Homo sapiens: one gene and its partners. The protein of the gene in region 4 interacts with the protein of the main gene of each other region in a pairwise test. Each region holds a gene or a part of one and is shown on either strand. Other genes may lie near its edges.

Region 1 (4,646 bases), on a different chromosome or scaffold from region 4:
TATGTAATCTAAAAAGGAGAGAGGATAACAAATGAAGCCCAGAGATGTGGAAGATCATGCTCTCTGTTGATGCAATCACATTTGGAATTTAGTTCAATATATCAGTCAAATCCATTCTTATCTCCCTGCCACTACCAGGAAAAAACATCTAAACTCTGATAATTAAAAATAACATACTTACCATGAAAATTTTCCAAACACAGTAAATAGAGAAAAAGTAACCAAGAAAATTAAAATATTTCCCCTTGAAGGTTTTGGAGTATTCTATTCTCTCCTGGGGGAAAACAAACACAAAACATAGTTTTCAGCAAAATATAAATTTATATTCAACACAAGTATTCTTCCCTCTATGAATCACTGTTCAGGTTCAGTCAAAAAACCATACATTGCAATAATATTAAACTAATAACAGTAGTTGTGGCCAGCATTTACTGAATGCTTGCTTTTAGCTAGAGACTGGGATAAACATCTTACATGCATTATCCACTTAATCTTCATAACAACTCTTATGAGATACGTTCTATTATCTTAATTTTACAGATGAGAAAATTGAGGCTTTGAGAGGTTCGATAACTTGCTCAAAGTCACACAGCTGGTGAGTAGGCTCAGGTTTATCTGTTTCCAAAGCCTATGTTAACCTCTGTCCTATAAGGTTACTCCTGTAAAGTTATCCTCAAAAAGAATTAAAAGTTTGCAATCTTCACTAACAGATTTTGCACATTTAAATTATATTTTATTTTAGGTGTACATAGGAAAGTTACTTCTTACAGTTTCGACACTTATTGATCTGGATCCTTTAAAATAGGGCTAGGCCATCCATGGCAGATAGGTGTCTACTGCTCTTATAATATTACTAACTTATAAAGGAATAAAAAGTAGCTACCATCTTTATCCCAGGTTAGTAGGAGGTGGTACGTGCCACCTTCCTAAATGTTGAAAAGCCTCTTCTGACTATCCCACCAATTGCTACTTTTGAGAGTGTTCCATTAAGGATTTTGCTAGTGACAGGAGCAATTTCATGAAGAGTGAAGATCCCTTATCCCTAATGCTTCATGGCTGATATAGAAGCTGTGAGGTATCTCTTGCTTGGCCACAGAGAAATCTAAAAAGCCATTTAGTCTTGTTCTCTCTTTAATAATATTGGTAAAAACCACACTTCAGTTTCCTTGCTCTGTACCTTGGTAGCATATAGATCAGCTGTTTCCAGAAAAAGCTGCCTGCTTAATTCTTCCAAAGCATCCACTTCCTGTTGAATAAGAGTAAGATCTGGCACAGAATGGGCATCAAGGTTTTAATCACATAGGAATTTCAAGAAATGGCAATGAGAAAGCATATACTTTTAGTTTTTCCTACAGTGGATTCCCGGAGTTGCCTATATTCTCAATTTCCTGTTTCATAGCCAGCAACACTACTTCAGAGCAACTTTCCCAACCTCTGACGCAGGTGTGTAAAAGCTTCTCCATCAAGAGCATCGCCACCAAACAATTACCACTCAGTTTCTCTTAAGTCAAGCAGCTCAAACAGATAGTTTCATTTGTTTTTTGATTTATCTAGTTAGATTAAGTCAAATGTAATGTTCAAGATTGTAAATAGTTACAGAATAATAACTATAATAAAGCATAGCTTTCTCCTACATTATCTGAATATAATGTTAGAAAAGGGAACTAATACTTTACTGTGTTCTAATATAGGCTAGGATTTACAGACATTACCTTATTTCTTTTCAAACATTATCTTCTTTTATATCTTATCTTCATGGGATTGTCTTATGCCATGGTGTTATCCATTTTGCACATAAGGAAAGTGAAGCTCAGAGAGTTAAATAACTTGCTCAAAGTCACACAATTAATTGATAGAGATGCAAAGTCAAATCCTCTTTTCCTCCAAAGCCTGCTCTTTCCGTTACACTATGTTATTTTCCAAGAACTCAATCAGGTAGAGTTATTATTCTCCCATTTAGAGAACAGGGGCTCAGGGAGGTTAAATAGTCCTGATATGTTTGTTAACTCATCACTAACACAGCTCAAACCCATATTATTGGCTTTTATGAACTTTTAAGTAATAAACATAGTAAATATAGCCCCTTCTAAAATAGAAGCACATACTTCAATCTAAATCCTCCCTCCTCTCTGATTTTTCCCACTATTACCCAAATCAGTAAGTGCCCTTCAGTTCCTTCCTTAATAGTGGCTACTACTGGCATGGTTCAAGCCACCAAACAATATGGTTTAACTAGTTACATGTCTGTCTCTCCCATGATTAGAGGGTAAGCTCCTTGAGGAGAAAGGCTATACTCTACTCATCATTTTATTTCTTAGCACTCAGCCTGGAAATAGGAGATACAAAATAAATGTTTCTTGGTTAAATAAATCTAAATTAATCCTTTTTCTTTCTCTTCCACAATCATCTTGCCTTTCTTTGATCTTATTCTTATCTTCATTTGACACCAGGACATAAATCATAATTTGTAGCAAGAATAGACATCCTTCTCTAATTGAGGCAAAAGGGAATTTGTATTTCCCTGGGACAGAGAAGGAAACAGGAGTATGCTATCTCATGCTTAGTTCCCCAAAGTTTTGACCTAATAGCACCAGAGCCACACAGAAATTTGGTTACATAATTTGGGAAGTAGTTCAACATCATAACCAATCAGGAAAGAACAATTTATTAATCTATTAATCAAATCTCCTTTATCCTTTCTTTTTTATTTTGAGACAGGGTCTAGCTCTGTTGCCTAGGCAGGAGTGCAGTGGCGTGATCTGGGCTCACTCCTACCTCAGCCTCCCAAGTTCAAACAATCCTCCCACCTCAGCCTCCTGAGTAGTTGGGATTACAGGCACATGCCACTGGGCCTGGCTAATTTTTGTATTTTTTGTAGAGATGAGGTTTTGTCATGTTGCCGAGGCTTGTCTTGAACTCCTGGGTTCAAGTGATCTGCCCACCTCGGCCTTGCAAAGTGCTGGGATTACAGGGATGAGCCACTGCGCCCAGCCTCCCCTTGATTCTTTAAACCAAAATGTCACTGGAGAAGCAGAGCTACTTAAAATTTGTTTAGGAATACTAATTACTTTAGAAATGGGCCATTTATTTTAGGTAGCCATTATGCTTTATGGTGGTTTTTCAGAGTTGAGAAATGTAATAGTGTAGTGGAAAGAACTATGAAGAGGAGACCACAGTTATGTTTCTAGCTTTGCCACAAACCACCGTGTGACTTAACCTCTCTGGGTCTATTTTCTCATCTGTAAAATGGAAAGGCTGACTTTTTAGGACCACTTCAGCTCAAAGACAATGATTTTATGATATTGTGCAGGTGCTGGAAAGATGACTGTACACATGGTATTTCCTAAGCCTAGCTCTTAGGAGTTTGGACTCTGATGTAGTCAGGTACCTTAGAAGGGACTATCCCAACACTACTTTTTTTCTTTTGCTCTTGGTCCAGAGTTGAGAAAAAGAATCAAGCAGAGGGACAAAGGATACTTTCACTTCCTGATGCTGAAGTGGTAACACTTTTTATCATTCCCCAGAAACCTGATGGTTTGTTATGCACTTCCCCCTTCTGGAACATTGTTCTCCGTGCCATTGCCATCCTGAAATGAAAGAAAATATAAAGCCTCAGCAAGCAAGCATGGACCCTCACAGTCTAGTCCCATCCATTTTCCAGTCTCACAACTGCCTCTCATGTACTGAGCTGTTTATGTAAGGATACTGATTCTGGAGTCCTACTTTTCTACTACTTACAACTGAAGGGAAACTATGTGGAAGCAATGTGGCCTGGGTGAAGAAGCACAGAATTTGGGCTAGGCAATAAATTTGAGGACTGGCTCTGCTATTTGGAAGCTGGGAGGTCTTAGAGTTTTCATCTCCTCATATCTGGATGGTTGTGAAGATAAATGAAATAATACATATGAATTCATGTTGTCAACTACAAGGCGCTATACATAGTTTAATTACTACAGTTACCATTTAAAGACAAAATAAAACAGCTAACATACCTGGCTGGGTATGGTGGCTCACTCCTGTAATCCCAGCACTTTGGGAGGCCGAGGCAGGTGGATCACCTGAGGTTGGGAGTTCAAGACCAGCATGGGCAACATGGTGAAACCCCATCTCTACTAAAAATACAAAAATTAGCTGGGCGTGGTGACCCATGTCTGTAATCCCAGCTACTTGGGAGGCTGAGGCAGGAGAATCGCTTGAACCTAGGAGGCAGAGGTTGCAGTGAGCTGAGATCACGCCACTGCACGCCAGCCCAGGTGACAGAGTGAGACTCCATCTCAAAAACAAAACAAAAACAAACAAACAAAAAAAAACAGCTAACATACCTAACTAAAGGACCAAATACAGAGTTTGGAACGCAATACATGTTTTCTTCCTTCTTTTTCAAAGGCAGACAAAAGGAAAAAAAAATAGCAAAATTGCATAAACCTGTCCCCTTCTAAAATATCAGTCTCTAAGTCCAATACCCTCACCTTCTGTAATCTGTCCTACAGGTGAATAAGTCAACAGGAAACCTACCACTCCTGGTCCTCTCAGTCTGTGGAGGACCGACTAGTACAGTGGTAGCTGCTGGCATGTCCCAGCTCACCACAAAGGTATCAACAGGGTCCTAGTGAGGATCAAAATAAAAGATCATTTGTACATAATTG
Region 2 (4,646 bases), on a different chromosome or scaffold from region 4:
AAGGGAAAACATGCTAAGGAAAAGGCCACATATTACACGATCCATTTGTATGAAATGTCTCAAACACAAATCCACAGACAGAATCTGCTTTCTGTTGCCAGGGAGATGGGGAGTGACTGCTAATGGATAGGGGGTTTCTTGGGGGGTGATGAAAAACATTCTGGAACTAGATAGTGGCAGTGGCTGTACAACTTTGTGAATGTAAAAACTACTGAACTGTACACTTTAAAAGGATACATGCTATGGAATGTGAATTATACATATCAGTTTTTAAAAATTCACTCAAGGGGCTGGGCACGTGGTTCACGCCTGTAATCCCAGCACTTTGGGAGGCCAAGGCAGGTGGATCACCTGAGGTCAGGAGTTCGAGACTAGCCTGGCCAACATGGTGAAACCCCGTCTCTACTAAAAATATAAAAATTGGCCAGGTGTAATGGTGGGTGCCTGTAATCCCAGCTACTTGGGAGGCTGAGGCAGAAGAACTGTTTGAACCCAGGAGGCAGAGGTTGCAGTGAGCCAAGATCGCGCCACTGCTCTCCAGCCTGGGCACAAGGGCGAGACTCTGTCTCAAAAAAAAAAAAAAAAAAAAAATTCACTCAGGGTCATATTTGCTATCAACAGGTAGATGATGCTGGAATCTGACTTTAAGAAAATTATGGCATGTCCTGCACATGTATCCTGGAATTTAAAAAAAGTAAAATTAAAAAAAAAAAGAAAAAAAAATTATGGTAATATAATGAGAGTGGTGTCCTGACATGGCTTGAAATCTAGCTGAGGAAAATTCCAACAAGGACTTCTTGAAAGACTGAAGTCAGTGGGTGCACACACACACTCTGAAGGTGACTACTTTTTTAAAAGGACAACTCACTTTCAGAATAGAGGTTCTATAAGTACATTAAAATGATCATGACTGTTTGAAAACACCAAATTCTACCTCATCCATTCACTTCCTAAATATAATTTAGATCTTAATTTTGTTCATATGATCTTTACACCTCAAGACAACTACTTTTAAGACTGACATTACTCACAAAAACACTTCAAAATCCTGACCACGATCAAAATCAGATCCAAAGGCTGGGATATGAAATTATTTTAATTTCACTTTTAGGTTTCAAGTTTAAGCTTAAATAAACATCCCACAGTTTCATAATAAATACTTTACAACTCAATATTCAGAGGTCAAAATTTATATGGCACAGACCAGGCTGCCATTTTTAAAATAAGTGGTTTCTCTAAACTGTGGTTTAGCATGCAGAGGAGTTTTTGTTGCACATCAGTTATGAGTCAGAGTGAATAAAGAAGTTATAAACACACACACACACACACCCAGGAAAAGCATTCGAAGCACAAAAGTATCAGGAGACTGACTGGTTTTTAATTCACATATATCATCAAGAAAACTTGACCAGTGGTCTAACGGGGACAGGACTGGGAAAGGGAGTCTCAGATGAGAGACTGAGATAGGTGTCAGCCTCAGTTCCACCAATAACTAGTAGAGTAACCTTGGGGAAGTCATCTGACTCTCTGGAGGCCTGTTTTCTCATCAGTGAGGTGAAAAAAACTAGACTCCAAGGTTTCTAAGTGTTACAATTCTCAACAGTCTTTGATTCTATTGTTAAGTAGCATAAGGCTGTGGGAAGCCCAGGTATTACAACATGCAGTTCTCATATTTTTGTGCACCTAGGAAGCCATGCCACGTAGAGTAATAAGAGAACTCAGAATTAGCCACAGGGAAGAAGGAACAAGAAAAGTGTACACGGCTCCCGCTAGTACTGGTTTACTCCTGTTGGACCTAGTAAAGAGAAAGCACCTTTGACAATTTTCTAGAGAATGATAGGAGTGGTTCCTATGTCTCACCACACCCAACATAGTCAGTTTTTCCGAAACGAAATACAGTGGGGACTATACAAAATGTTGTGAAGCACCAAGCACTATTAGTCACTGCATGACTAATAGGACAGATCAATTTTAAATTAAAGAAACAAAAGAGATTTCTCTTTCTCATATAAAAAGAAAGAAACAGCTTTCATTCCAGTCAAGGAGTCCTAGATGACCACAGTGAATAATCTGTTACACGGATACTCAGTAATAAATATGGTGTCAATTCAAAGAAAATTAATTATCTACAGAACCAAAAGGTTCAAAAGCACTTAAGTTCAACGTAACGTTATTACTCAACATAGCCTTTTAATGTAATTCAGGTTGTAACTCCAACCTCTAGAGTTGACAGCAGTATTAAAGAGTCATTCAAAGTCATCACCTTAGCCAGACACTGTGGCTCACACCTGTAATCCTAGCACTTTGGGAGGCTGAGGCAGGTGGATGACATGAGGTCAGGAGTTCGACACCAGCCTAGGCAACGTGGCGAAACCTCATCTCTACTAAAAAAATACAAACAATTAGCCGGGTGAGGTGGCACATGCCTGTAGTCCCAGCTACTCGGAAGGCTGAGGCACAAGAATCGCTTGAAGCTGGGAGGCAGAGGTTGCAGCGAGCCAAAATCGTGCCACTGCACTCCAGCCTGGGTGGCAGAGCAAGACTCTATCTCAAAAAAAAAAAAAAGTCATCACCTTTTACGGTATCAACTAAATAGAAGTCACCATCATATGAACTGGTTCAGGACAGCCAAGGATCAAATGAGGCCAACTCATGAAGTTATTTCAGGTGGCTTCCAAGACTGCCGTCCGGAAGAGCTCCTCCACAACAGGACAGTCCTGGAGAACCTGTCCTTCACTGCCCCTATCCCCCACCATTTGCATATGTGCATGCTTGATCTTTGTCAAACATGGCTAACAACCACCTTTTGGTCACATCAGCTACCAGTATCTGACTGTGTCTGCTGGCATTCCCTTCAAGGGTACAGAGCTGGGGTTCTTGATCTGATTCCTATGCATGGACCTCCAGGTGGTATCAGAGGAGTCATGGAGTCAGCAAAGTTCCTAAGAGCCCATGCAAAATTTTATCTCTGTGCACAGGGTCCTGATCCTCAGGGGTTGTGAATCAAGGAAAGCTAAAAACCACTGGTTTAGTGCTACATACAAAACAGGAATCTACTGAAGGTGCCCGTGACACCTGTCATTTGAGGTGCAGAACAAAGGGTGCCATCTATTCAAAGCAAAAGTAAAATATGGGCTGGGCGCGGTGGTTCATGCCTGTAATCCCAGCAGTTTGGGAGGCCGAGGCTGGTGGATCACCTGGGGTTAGGAGTTCGAGTACAGCCTGGCCAACATGATGAAACCCCGTTTGTACTAAAAATACAAAAATTAGCCGGGCGTGATGGCGCGCGCCTGTAATCCCAGCTACTCAGGTGGCTGAGGCAGGGGAATCACTTAAACCCGGGAGGCGGAGGTTGCAGTGAGCCGAGATGGCGCCATTGCACTCCAGCCTGGGCAACAAGAGCGAAACTCCATACCCGCACCCCCCACCCACCAAAAAAAAAAAAGAAAAGAACAAAAGAAAATGTGATATGATGGTCAGAAGCTGTAGTCACTAAGGGTCAGATCGTCCATTCCCTTTATCCCCTAGTCCAGATAAACCAAAGGAGACTCAAGAGAGACTCTGCCCAAGACCACAAATCACAGAGCTACTAAGTGGCAAAGCTGAGCATCAAAGTTCACTGGATTTCCACCAGGATGTCAGGGCATGAAATTATGTTTATACTTTTTTAGAATGGGTTTGACCAAAATCCCCCCAATTCTTGTAAATATCCCACTCCATTAAGAAGGTAGCCTTCCAAAATTTTATTGTATTTTTTTTGAGACGGAGTCTTGCTCTGTTACCCAGGCTGGAGTGCAGTGGTGTGATCTCGGCTCACCGCAACCTCCATCTCCCAGGTTCAAGCAATTCTCCTGCCTCAGCCTCGCTAGTAGCTGGGACTACAGGCGTGTGCCACCACACCTGCCTAATTTTTGTATTTTTTAGTAGAGACGGGGTTTTGCCATGTTGGCCAGGCTGGTCTCGAACTCCTAACCTCAGGTGATCCGCCCACCTCCGCCTCCCAAAGTGCTGGGATTACAGGCGTGAGCCACCACGCCCGGTCTAGCCTTCCAAAATTTTAAAATCAAGCTTCCATATAGAATTTGATACATTTAAATACTCCCCAAATCATCAATCAAGTCACGGATCTTTCACAAAAGTCGCATACAGATTTTTTATTTTATTTTTTTTTTGAGACGGAGTCTCGCACTGTCGCCCAGTCTGGAGTGCAGTGGCACGATCTTGGCTCACTGAAGCCTCCACCTCCCTGGTTCAAGAGATTCTCCTGCCTCAGCCTGTTGAGTAGCTGGGACTATAGGCATGCGCCATCACGCCCGGCTAATTTTTGTATTTTTAGTAAAGACTGGGTTTCACCATATTGGTCAGTCTGGTCTTGAACTCTTGACCTCATGATCCACCCGCCTCAGCCTCCCAAAGTGCTGGGATTATAGGAGTGAGCCACCACGCGCAGCCCAGCATACAGATTTATGAGGTGAACCTTAGAGGCTCATTATCCCCTATCCTATGTTATGAACACAACTTTAAGAAGCAACACAGGGGCCAGGCTCACACTTGTAATCCCAGCACCTTGGGCGGCCGAGGCGAACACGAGGCCGATCACGAGGTCAGGAGTTCGAGACCGGCCTGGCCAACACAGTGAAACCCCA
Region 3 (4,646 bases), on a different chromosome or scaffold from region 4:
CCATCTGCTTGGGTCACTGTGATTTCAAACACAGCTGTGGGGACAGTGCAGCAAAAATGCATGCCCACCTTGTGGGTAGCAGACCCCCTGGCCCAGCACACACTGTCCATCTTTCTGCACCAAGGCTTTCTCTAACACTGAAGCAAGAGCCTACTCAGCCACGCAGGCACAGCACCCAGGGGCAACCTGCAACCGAGGCAAGGCAGGAGCCGGCAGATCCACAGGACAATTCTGGATGCTGTTCTGCAGGCTTCTTAGGAGGTGCTAGTGGAGTTCAGCCCCCTTTGCCCTCAAGTCAACTTCAATAATGTTAATATATCCTTAATGGCTTTCTTCCTGCTCTGTTTCATTCTTCCCACTCACCCTCCTGCTTCTTGTGGTCACCTCCAAAAAACCATACCTGTACCTAAATCCTTGTCTCAGGCTCTGCTCTGAGGAATACCCAAGATAAGTCTTTTAAAATGTATCACACACTACCTGCTTCCTGAAGCAGAAAATATGAAATAATGATTTTGCCTTTTTTGATGCTGCCATGTCTAAAAATCTGTGATTCAATAATTATAAATATCAGTGACTGTCTTTTGTTATGGCGTTTAGCAGTTACAAAGGAGTAAAGGGTATTGTGCCTGAGAAGGCTCTGCTTTTAAGGGTTGTCTTGCCATCTGTCACTTCTTGGGCACTTATTCCTCAACCCCTAGCCCTCTGATTTACAGCTTAGTCACTGCTCTGAGCCAGGAAATGGTATCCAAGTTTGCTAAAACTGTGTCTGGAACTAAAAGAGGATGAGCATGAGCTAAAGTACATGAGCTTAGGCTGGGTGTGGTGGCTCACCCCTGTAATCCCAGCACTTTGGGAGGCTGAGGCGGGCAGATCACCTGAAGCCAGAAGTTCAAGACCAGCCTGACCAACGTGGTGAAACCTTGTCTCTACTAAAAATACAGAAATTAGCCGGGTGTGGTGGCACATTCCTGTAATCTCAGCCATTTGGGAGGCTGAGGCAGGGGAATCACTTGAATCTGGGAGGCAGTGAGCTGAGATTGTGCGACTGCACTCCAGCCTGGGTGACAGAGTGAGACTCACTCTTTAAATAAATAAATAAATAAGTACATGAGCTTAAAGGGATAGTGGTGTAATGTAGAGTTTAAGCACATACAAGTTTTGAAGTTAGACATATCTGTATCAGATGCTGGCTTAACCGCTTATTAGCTAAGTCTGTTTCCTCATTTAAAAATCAAGTTATACACTTAAAATATATACAACAAAAATAAAATAGAGTAAAAAAACAAAAGTAACAAATTGGGATGTCATAAAAAAATGACAGAGCAGGGAACTCCAAAGGTCCATTCTGCCACTAAAGTGAGGAAAAAACTGGTAAAAATGTCAGAATCAACCTTTTTGGAACTCTGGAAACTAACCAAAGTTTGCAACAAACAGAGGAATGCTTAATTTAAAAAAGAAAAACAAAAACCAGGGCCAGGTGCAGTGGGTCATGCCTGTAATCCCAGCACTTTGGGAGACCAAGGCAGGAGGATCCCTCGAGCCCAGCAGTTTAAGACCAGCCTGGGCAACATGGTGAGACCCTGTCTAAAAACAAAACAAAACCAGCTGAATCTTGATAAGAGAACTTTCTGGTGTTGTAACCTACCCTGGTCCCATCACCCACTCTCCAGCTTGGTGGTGACCTTGAACAACAGTCCACACTCCCAGTACTGGTGTACAGAAACAGTACTGGATACCAGTACCTGACGGGGCAGGACGAACTTATTTTCAAAAAATTGTGGTTGTTTGTTTTGACCTGCCTGTCACCTCCCTGGAGGACCACCTCAAAGGGCCTGCTTTCATCTTAACTAACTAGGAACTATCCTAGTGCTGAGGGGGTTACATGAAGGATGTTTATCAAAAACATTTCGGCCGGGCGCGGTGGCTCACGCCTGTAATCCCAGCACTTTGGGAGGCCGAGGCGGGCGGATCACGAGGTCAGGAGATCGAGACCATCCCGGCTAAAACGGTGAAACCCCGTCTCTACTAAAAAATACAAAAAATTAGCCGGGCGTAGTGGCGGGCGCCTGTAGTCCCAGCTACTTGGGAGGCTGAGGCAGGAGAATGGCGTGAACCCAGGAGGCGGAGCTTGCAGTGAGCCGAGATCCCGCCACTGCACTCCAGCCTGGGCGACAGAGCGAGACTCCGTCTCAAAAAAAAAAAAAAAAACATTTCAAGGTAAAATGTATTAGTCTGTGCTGTCTAGGGCAAAGGATAACAGCTGGGGCATCCAACACACTAACCAAAAAGACTGGGAGGAAAAGCTGGGAAATGAGAAGCTCTGGGAAATAAGAGCTTTGAATAGCTCTGACAAGTTCCTGGAATTTAGAAGGCCACAGGCATGTCTAAGGCTGGGCACATGCTCAGAAAAGGCCACATGTGGCTCACCTTCAGGCTCTAGTCATGCAGGAAGTGAAGGCTAAGGCAGAGTTGTAACCACCTGACCATGTTGAAGACATGCTCCAATATACATTCTAGCTCCTGAACCAACCTCCCCCTACCCCTCTTACCTGTGCCTGTGATAAGTGTAACAAAGTTTTCCAGTCCCTTTCCTTGGCCAAATTTCCTTTCCGCCAGGGCAGCACAGTTGCCATCATTGTCTACCCACACAGGGAGATGCAAAGTGTCAGAAAGGGGGGTCCTAAGGTCCACAGAGTTCCACTCTTGGATCAGTTTGGTTGAATGCAGCACAATTCCTTCCCGAGGATTTACACGGCCACCTGTGGAAATGCCTGCGCTCCACCACAAACACAAGGAAATAATGCTGATGAGCAATCTCAGGAAAGTATGCTGACTTTCTTGTCTTAAGAACACAGATTCATTCACCCCAGATCTCCTAAGACAAACGTTACCAAGGACTGCAAGGAAATATTAGACAGTTGTGAATTAAAGCCATAGCACCTTAAAGATTTCTAGAACTGTCAGTGCTTCTCTCCTAATGCTTGTTGGTGTCCCAGGAAGTCCCCATGCTTGGGGCCCACAGACAGCACCTAGAGCCATCTATGCACAGGGCAGACACTGACTTGATGCTCAGGCATGCATCACAAGTTAGTAAATTTTGTACATTAAAATGAGCATTTCTTGGATTTATAATTTACAATCTTACCTACTCCCAAAATTCTGCAGTTCAGTTTTACAGCTTCTGCTGCAGCTTCCACACACATCTGTAGGATTAAATTAATCCTCTCTTCATAGGTTTTAGGATTGAACTGAGTATACTTCTTAACTATTTCACCCTAAAAGAGAAAACAACAAGTTCCGTCTTACTGGTCTTAGCTAAGCAGCATATTGTGAGTGTTGTGATCTTTTTCATGACAAATTAGACACTGCTATAGGATGGCCCCGCAGTCTTAGATGACTGCTTGGGGAAGGACCCACTGCCTGGTCTGGGCCAGCCCTGGGGTAAGCTCAAGTAGTTCCTGTAATCTGTCCTAATATGGGGCTGTTGAAGCAATGACAACTCCACAGGCAGCAAGATGGGCCCCTCTCTTTTTTTTTTTTTTGAGATGGCCTCTCGCTCTGTTGCCCAGGCTGGAGCGCTATGGCGCGATCTCAGCTCACTGCAACCTCCACCTCCCAGGTTCAGGCGATTCTCCTTCCTCAGCTTCCCAGGTAGCTGGGATTACAGGTGCCTGCCACCACGCCCGGCTAATTTTTGTATTTTTAGTAGAGATGGGGTTTCACCATGCTGCCCAGGCTGGTCTCAAACTCCTGACCTCAAGCAATCCGCCTGCCTCGGCCTCCCAAAGTGCTGGGATTACAGGCGTGAGCCACTGCCCCCGGCCGGGCCCCTTTCTTAAGCTTAAGTTCAATGTTCGCTAATTTGAGCCTAGTTCATTAAAAGACCATAGTTTACTCTTTCAGGTTGACAAAACTTTCTTGCTTACTGAGGTGACCGGGCATAGTGGCTCACGCCTGTAATCCCGGCACTTTGGGAGGCCAAGGCGGGAGAATCGCTTGGGCCCAGGAGTTTAAAACCAGCCTGGGAGGTACAGTGAGACCTCCTCTCTACAAAAAATTAGCCAGGCATGTTGGCACATGCCTGTAGTCCCAACTACTTGGGAGGCTAAGCTGGGAGGATTTCTTGAGCCTGGGAAGTTCAGGCTGCGGTGAGCTGAGATCACGCCACTGCACTCCAGCCTGGGCAACAGAGTGAGACCCTTTCTCAAAAACAAAAACAAAAAAACACTGAGGCAACTAAGTAGCTGAGCTTTAATCATCTCCTGTAACTGAATTCAGTGATGGTCTGGATACTCTATTTCCTTAGGGTAAATTTCCATCCTGGCTGGCAGAAATACCACATTGTTTAAATTATTATATGGCCGGCCGTGGTGGCTCACGCCTGTAATCCCAGCACTTTGAGAGGCCGAGGCAGGTAGATCACTTTGACCTCAGGAGTTCAAGACCAGCCTGCGCAATAAGAGGAAATCCCATCTCTATAAAAAATACAAAAATTAGCTGGGCGTGGTGGCACACGCCTGTAGTCTCAGCTACTTGAGAGGCTGAGGCTGGAGAATCGCTTGAACCCAGGAAGCAGAGGTTGCAGTAAGCCGAGATCATACCACTGCACTCCAGTCTGGGCGACAGAGTGAAACCCTGTCTCAAAA
Region 4 (5,064 bases):
GGTAGAAGATGACCAGCGGGATGAAGAAGGCGAAGAAGTCGATGGTGAGGTTGCTGACGATGAAGAAGAAGATGAGCGCGTTGATGTGGTGCGTGGGGATGATGGTGGACAGCCAGTGCATGCCTGCCCTGGAGGCCATGTCAATCAGGTACTCCTTGATCTCCATGATGGCGTGCAGGGGGTACTTGACCACCTGGGGGAAAGATGGTACGTGGGAACGAGGCTGGGACAGGACCCCCACTGCTCCCATCTCACGCCTCCCTCTGACCACCCTGCCTCTGGGCAAAAGGAACCCGCACCCTTGCGTTTTCCCATCACCAGCCCCATCCTAGTGGTCCTCCCTCCCCCCTTCTCCAGGTGGCCCTCCCCATGCTCGCGGTCCCTGTGAGCCCTCCCTCTTCTGGGCCTGGAGCCCCCCTCTGCCCCGTGCCTGGCTCCCCACCTTCTACCAGCGTGACTAGATGCATGTGTGCTTCTCTCCCTGCAAGACCTCCAGCACTGGAGGGACCCACGGGCTCCCCACTTCCCTCCCCTCAGGGTCACCCACATGAAGAGATGACGGAGCCCTGAGATGCCTGTCTGGGAGCTGGTTTTGTGACCCAGCTCTGCACTACAGCAAGGATGTCACCTCCCTGAGCCTCCATGAAGGGAAATGGCGATCCTTACGAGGAGGAGAAGCCGCAGGCAGTCCCCGGAGGGGTGGCAGAGCAAGCATTAGGGAAAGGGAGTTCAGTGCAGACACAGGCAGAGGGCCCAGCACCACTCTCCCAGCAAAAATACCGTTCAGCTGCACGGGGCTGCCGGGTGAGCTGCCCTCCCTATGGCCGGAGACCCTGAGAAGCAGCTGCCAGGCCACCTTCTGCCCGTACACACACGTGCACACACACACACGCAACCCACCCCTACACACACGCATTCACACAAACCCACCCCATACACACACACACAACCCACCCCTACACACACACATGCAGCCCACCCCTACACACACGCATTCACACAACCCACCCCTATACACATTCACACACACGCAACCTACCCGCATTCAAACAACCCACCCCTACACACACATTCACACACACGCAACCCACCCCTACACACACACACGCAACCTACCCGCATTCACACAACCCACCCCTACACACACATTCACACACACGCAACCTACCCGCAAACAACCCACCCCTACACACACATTCACACACACGCAACCCACCCCTACACACACACGCAACCTACCTGCATTCAAACCCACCCCTACACACACATTCACACACACGCAACCCACCCCTACACACACATTCACACAACCCACCCCTATACACATTCACACACACGCAACCCACCCCTACACACACGTGCACACCCACCCCCACACGTGCACCCTCACACATGCACACCCACCCCTACACGTGTGCACCTACACATACACACCAGCGCACCCCTACCTCCCCATAGTCAAGGCCAAAGGCTGCCTTCCCCCGACCTGTGGGTCCTGCTCCCCTGCTCTGCATGCAGCGCTAAGGTCAGAAAGAGCTCTTGGCCTTCACCACAGCCAAGAGGAGCAGAGGGCTGAGGGAGGCATGCTGGGAGCAGCCTCAGGATGGGGTGAAGCAGCGCTGCCACCCAGGGCCAGCCCTCATGCCTTCCTGGTCTGTGCAGAACTCAGAGGCCCTGAGCCCTGCCAGAACACAGGGCAGCCAGGCAGAGGGACTGGAGGGGATGGGGGACAAAGTGGCCATGGTGCCAGTGCTCACACAGCATGGCGTGGCATACAAAGCAGGTTCTGTGCATCTTCAGAAGTGCCAGGGGCCTGGACCAACACCAGGAAGTGGACGCCTAGGGGGCGGCCCCACATGGGGGTAGGGAAGCCTGGCTGCATGTCCAGGGCCCACTGAGGGGCTACATGACACATCCAGGCTGGAGCCCCCCATCAGCTCCGGGCCTCGGGGAAGCACCAGACCCCACAAATCCCCTGGGGCAGGTTCTCTCCACCAGGCCCACCAGAAGGCCAAGGAGGGATCCCAGGTGAATGGCAACTAGGTGACAACACCAGAATGTGGCCCTCACCTGCCAACAGCCTGGCTATCAGCTCTGGAGGACCAGGACACCTGGAAACAACCAGAAGACTGAGTCTTCCACAGATGAGAGGAGAGGGGCAGGCTCATGGAGGAAACGGAAGTGTTATGAGTGTGTGCATGCATGTCTACACAGACTGAGCCTTCCACAGATGAGAAGGACAGGCTCATGGAAGAAACGGAAGTGTTTAGGAGTGTGTGCATGCACGTCTACACGTGGGGGAACAGCTCTGCTGCTTCATGTATATTTGTGACAGTCCACTTAATCTCTGTTTTATAACAAGCAAATAAACGATTAAAGCAGCTAACAGCTCCCCTAGCTCTCTCTGGGGTCAACAACCTTCTACATGAGCAGAGAGGCGCTCACACTGCCAGGAGATGGCCAGGGAAGACCAGGCACTACAGGGTTTGAGGGCATTTCCAACGCTTGCCAGAGAGCCAGAGGGCATTTATGAAAACCAACCTACTCCAGGGTTTGTTTGGGGCAAGCCCCTGTAGTATGACGCCAGGCCAGCTGGCTAAAATCAACAGCTACACGAGTCAACATGTGCGTCAGCCGGCAGGCTGCTCAGTTAATCCCCGTATGGGGGCCTTGCGAACAGCAGGACAACTAAAGGTGGCCTGGCCCGCCACTGCTCACCACCAGTTTCACGCACGACCGCCACGGTAGCAAGGGGGTGGCCTTGGTAAAAATAAATCTGAAATCCTGTCTTACTCAAAGCCATGCACATTCTTTTGCCTAGAACACACACAACCACCTGGTTGAGAGGGCCTTTAAAAGACAAGGAATATTCTAGAACATTACGTTGGATGGCGTCTAGCCTCTGCTTGGACAGTGTGGAGGGGCTGGTCCCCCACCTGAACTCGATGACCAGGGAACGATCCCCTTTTTAAAGCCCCAATTTCTGCTCCCTGCAATGTACACCCAAGACCTTCCTCTGACATGGGATTAAAAAGTTCAGTCTCCTTTTCTGCAAAGAAGGTCCAAACAAATTCAACTCCTGAGATGGAAAAAGAACGAAACTTAAAAACTATGAGGAGTCTGCCTCTATGAATAGAACACTGCAGAGCTCTCTGTCTGGGCCTGTGGTGATCGGCCCTTCTGCTGCCACGAGAAACCAGGAAGCAGCGTCACCACACCGATGGCCCAGCGGACCCGTGAAGAAGGCAGGCTGGGGAAGGGAGCCGAGACGAGATTCTGCTCAAACCTGTGGGCAAAAATGTTCCCGTGTCGGATCTTCCAATTATGTAATGTTAAAAATGTTACGATTTTAAGATATTAAGTTTGTTTTCAGAGGATTCTATCTACGATGACAGCTTGCACCTCCAGGCTCCAGAAGAGAACTGTGTGGAGTCTGGAACATTCTTTGTGGGAGTAAGGGTGGCTCACAAAGAGGTGTCTGTCATTTTCACTTTGAGTGAAGACCTCTCCTTGTTCTACAAAAGGCTACTAAAAGGTGGGACAGCTCTCAGCCCTGGGAGACGCTTGTGACGATTCATTGCCTCCCTCACAAGAGACTTCTAAGAAGACAAACTGCAAAGGAATCGAAGTGCTCTGACAGCATCCAAAACTAAAGGGAAACAGAGTCTTGTTTACTTCTTGTCAAAACAGCTTAAATCTCTCCCTTCTAAAAAGGACTTTCAGGCTGGATACAGTGTCTCACGCCTGAATCCCAGCAGTGTGGGAGGCCAAAGTGGGAGGCTCGCTTGACCCAGGAGTTTGAGACCAGCGTAGATAACAATAGTGAGACCCCCATCGCTACAAAATGTTTTCAAAAAAATCAGCTGGGTGTGGTGGCACATGCCTGTAGTCCAGCTATTTGGGAGGCTGAGGTGGGAGGATCACTTGAGTTTGGCACGTTGAGGCTGCAGTGAGCTGTGACCGTGCCACTGCACTCCAGCCTGTGCAACAGAACGAGACCCTGTCATTAAGTAACATAAATAAATAGGATTTTCAGATGCTACACAACACTAGACTCACCATCCATAACTAGGTGACATAATTTTCCGAACAGGACGCATATGCAAGGAGGCATTATTATAATAGTACTTACACCAGATGGCATAAACTGGGACACCTGGGCCATGGCCGCCTGGCCCAAGGGTCTTCTCCAAGTTAACCCGTTCACCTGTGACCCTCACTCTCATTTCGGGAGTGTCTTTGCCAAAACCATGCCAGCACCCCAGCTTCCTCATCTCCCATTAGTAAGGAGATGATGGCACCCAATCTGTGAATATGCTTGCCTAGGGCCAGCTCTGAGCAGACCATCAGTAAAAACCATGTGCTCCCTTGGTTCAAGTTCTTGGCCATCCTGGCCCATGTCTCAGAACCTCTGCAGACCGGTCGGTGTCATACCCTGGACATACAGCCTGTCCCAAGTGGGAGGAGCAGAGCCTTCCACCTGCCACCCTAAAGGACTCGCAGCTCTGGGCACTCGGGGGGCTCACACTCAGACCTGTCTGGCTCCGAGTCCCTGCAGCAGGGCTGCTGTGCCTGCTGCTCTTTGGGCTGAAGCTGCTCCTGCAGCACCTGGGTTCCTGCTCTTCCCCCCCACCGGAGGGCGGGCCTACTCTGACCTTCTCCCTGGCTCGAGGACGGTGACCTTTCAGCCTGCTGCCTGCCTGACAGTTGGTGGCCCAACCATCTCCTGGTCCTGGCCCTGACTCACGCGCCCATCTGAATACAATGATGGCAGTTCCTCCAGGTTCTCAGTCAGTTCAGAAGACAGAACCCCAGGGTGCCTGCATGATACTGCCCGCAGCCTCTGTGACAATCATCTGCTGGGGCCCCCTGTGCTGGCCTCAGCTTGGGGATCCTGGGTCAGGAGGCCAAGCTTCTGGAAATCCTGGTGTTCTCTGCAGAGTGAGACAGGCACACATCTAATTCAACCATGCGAGCTGAACTGTGAGCAACTCTGTGAGAGGCCATAGGGCCACATGGCCAAGAAAACAAGCTGTCAGGCCAGGAGTAGGGCCCGCACTGCTG

Evidence for each region. The genes of interacting proteins can lie anywhere in the genome.
Region 1: the proteins of WFS1 (region 4) and GPR89B interact in binary tests that used the Homo sapiens proteins (3 or more experiments, as listed by UniProt).
Region 2: the proteins of WFS1 (region 4) and PPTC7 interact in binary tests that used the Homo sapiens proteins (3 or more experiments, as listed by UniProt).
Region 3: the proteins of WFS1 (region 4) and GNE interact in binary tests that used the Homo sapiens proteins (3 or more experiments, as listed by UniProt).

What each region holds. Positions count from the first base shown.
Region 1 is NC_000001.11:147,965,495-147,970,140, reverse strand, and holds part of GPR89B (Golgi pH regulator B), read right to left. Parts: intron 3,588-4,646; coding exon 3,478-3,587; intron 1,810-3,477; coding exon of another isoform or gene 1,754-1,809; exon of another isoform or gene 1,267-1,753; coding exon 1,178-1,266; intron 275-1,177; coding exon 182-274; intron 1-181. UniProt on the Homo sapiens protein: Voltage-gated channel that enables the transfer of anions such as iodide, chloride, bromide and fluoride which may function in counter-ion conductance and participates in Golgi acidification.
Region 2 is NC_000012.12:110,576,598-110,581,243, forward strand, and holds part of PPTC7 (protein phosphatase PTC7 homolog), read right to left. Parts: intron 1-4,646. UniProt on the Homo sapiens protein: Protein phosphatase that plays an essential role in mitochondrial metabolism and biogenesis. Positively regulates biosynthesis of the ubiquinone, coenzyme Q. Dephosphorylates the ubiquinone biosynthesis protein COQ7 which is likely to lead to its activation.
Region 3 is NC_000009.12:36,220,228-36,224,873, forward strand, and holds part of GNE (bifunctional UDP-N-acetylglucosamine 2-epimerase/N-acetylmannosamine kinase), read right to left. Parts: intron 3,276-4,646; coding exon 3,146-3,275; intron 2,772-3,145; coding exon 2,550-2,771; intron 1-2,549. UniProt on the Homo sapiens protein: Bifunctional enzyme that possesses both UDP-N-acetylglucosamine 2-epimerase and N-acetylmannosamine kinase activities, and serves as the initiator of the biosynthetic pathway leading to the production of N-acetylneuraminic acid (NeuAc), a critical precursor in the synthesis of sialic acids.
Region 4 is NC_000004.12:6,295,786-6,300,849, reverse strand, and holds part of WFS1 (wolframin), read right to left. Parts: intron 194-5,064; coding exon 1-193. UniProt on the Homo sapiens protein: Participates in the regulation of cellular Ca(2+) homeostasis, at least partly, by modulating the filling state of the endoplasmic reticulum Ca(2+) store.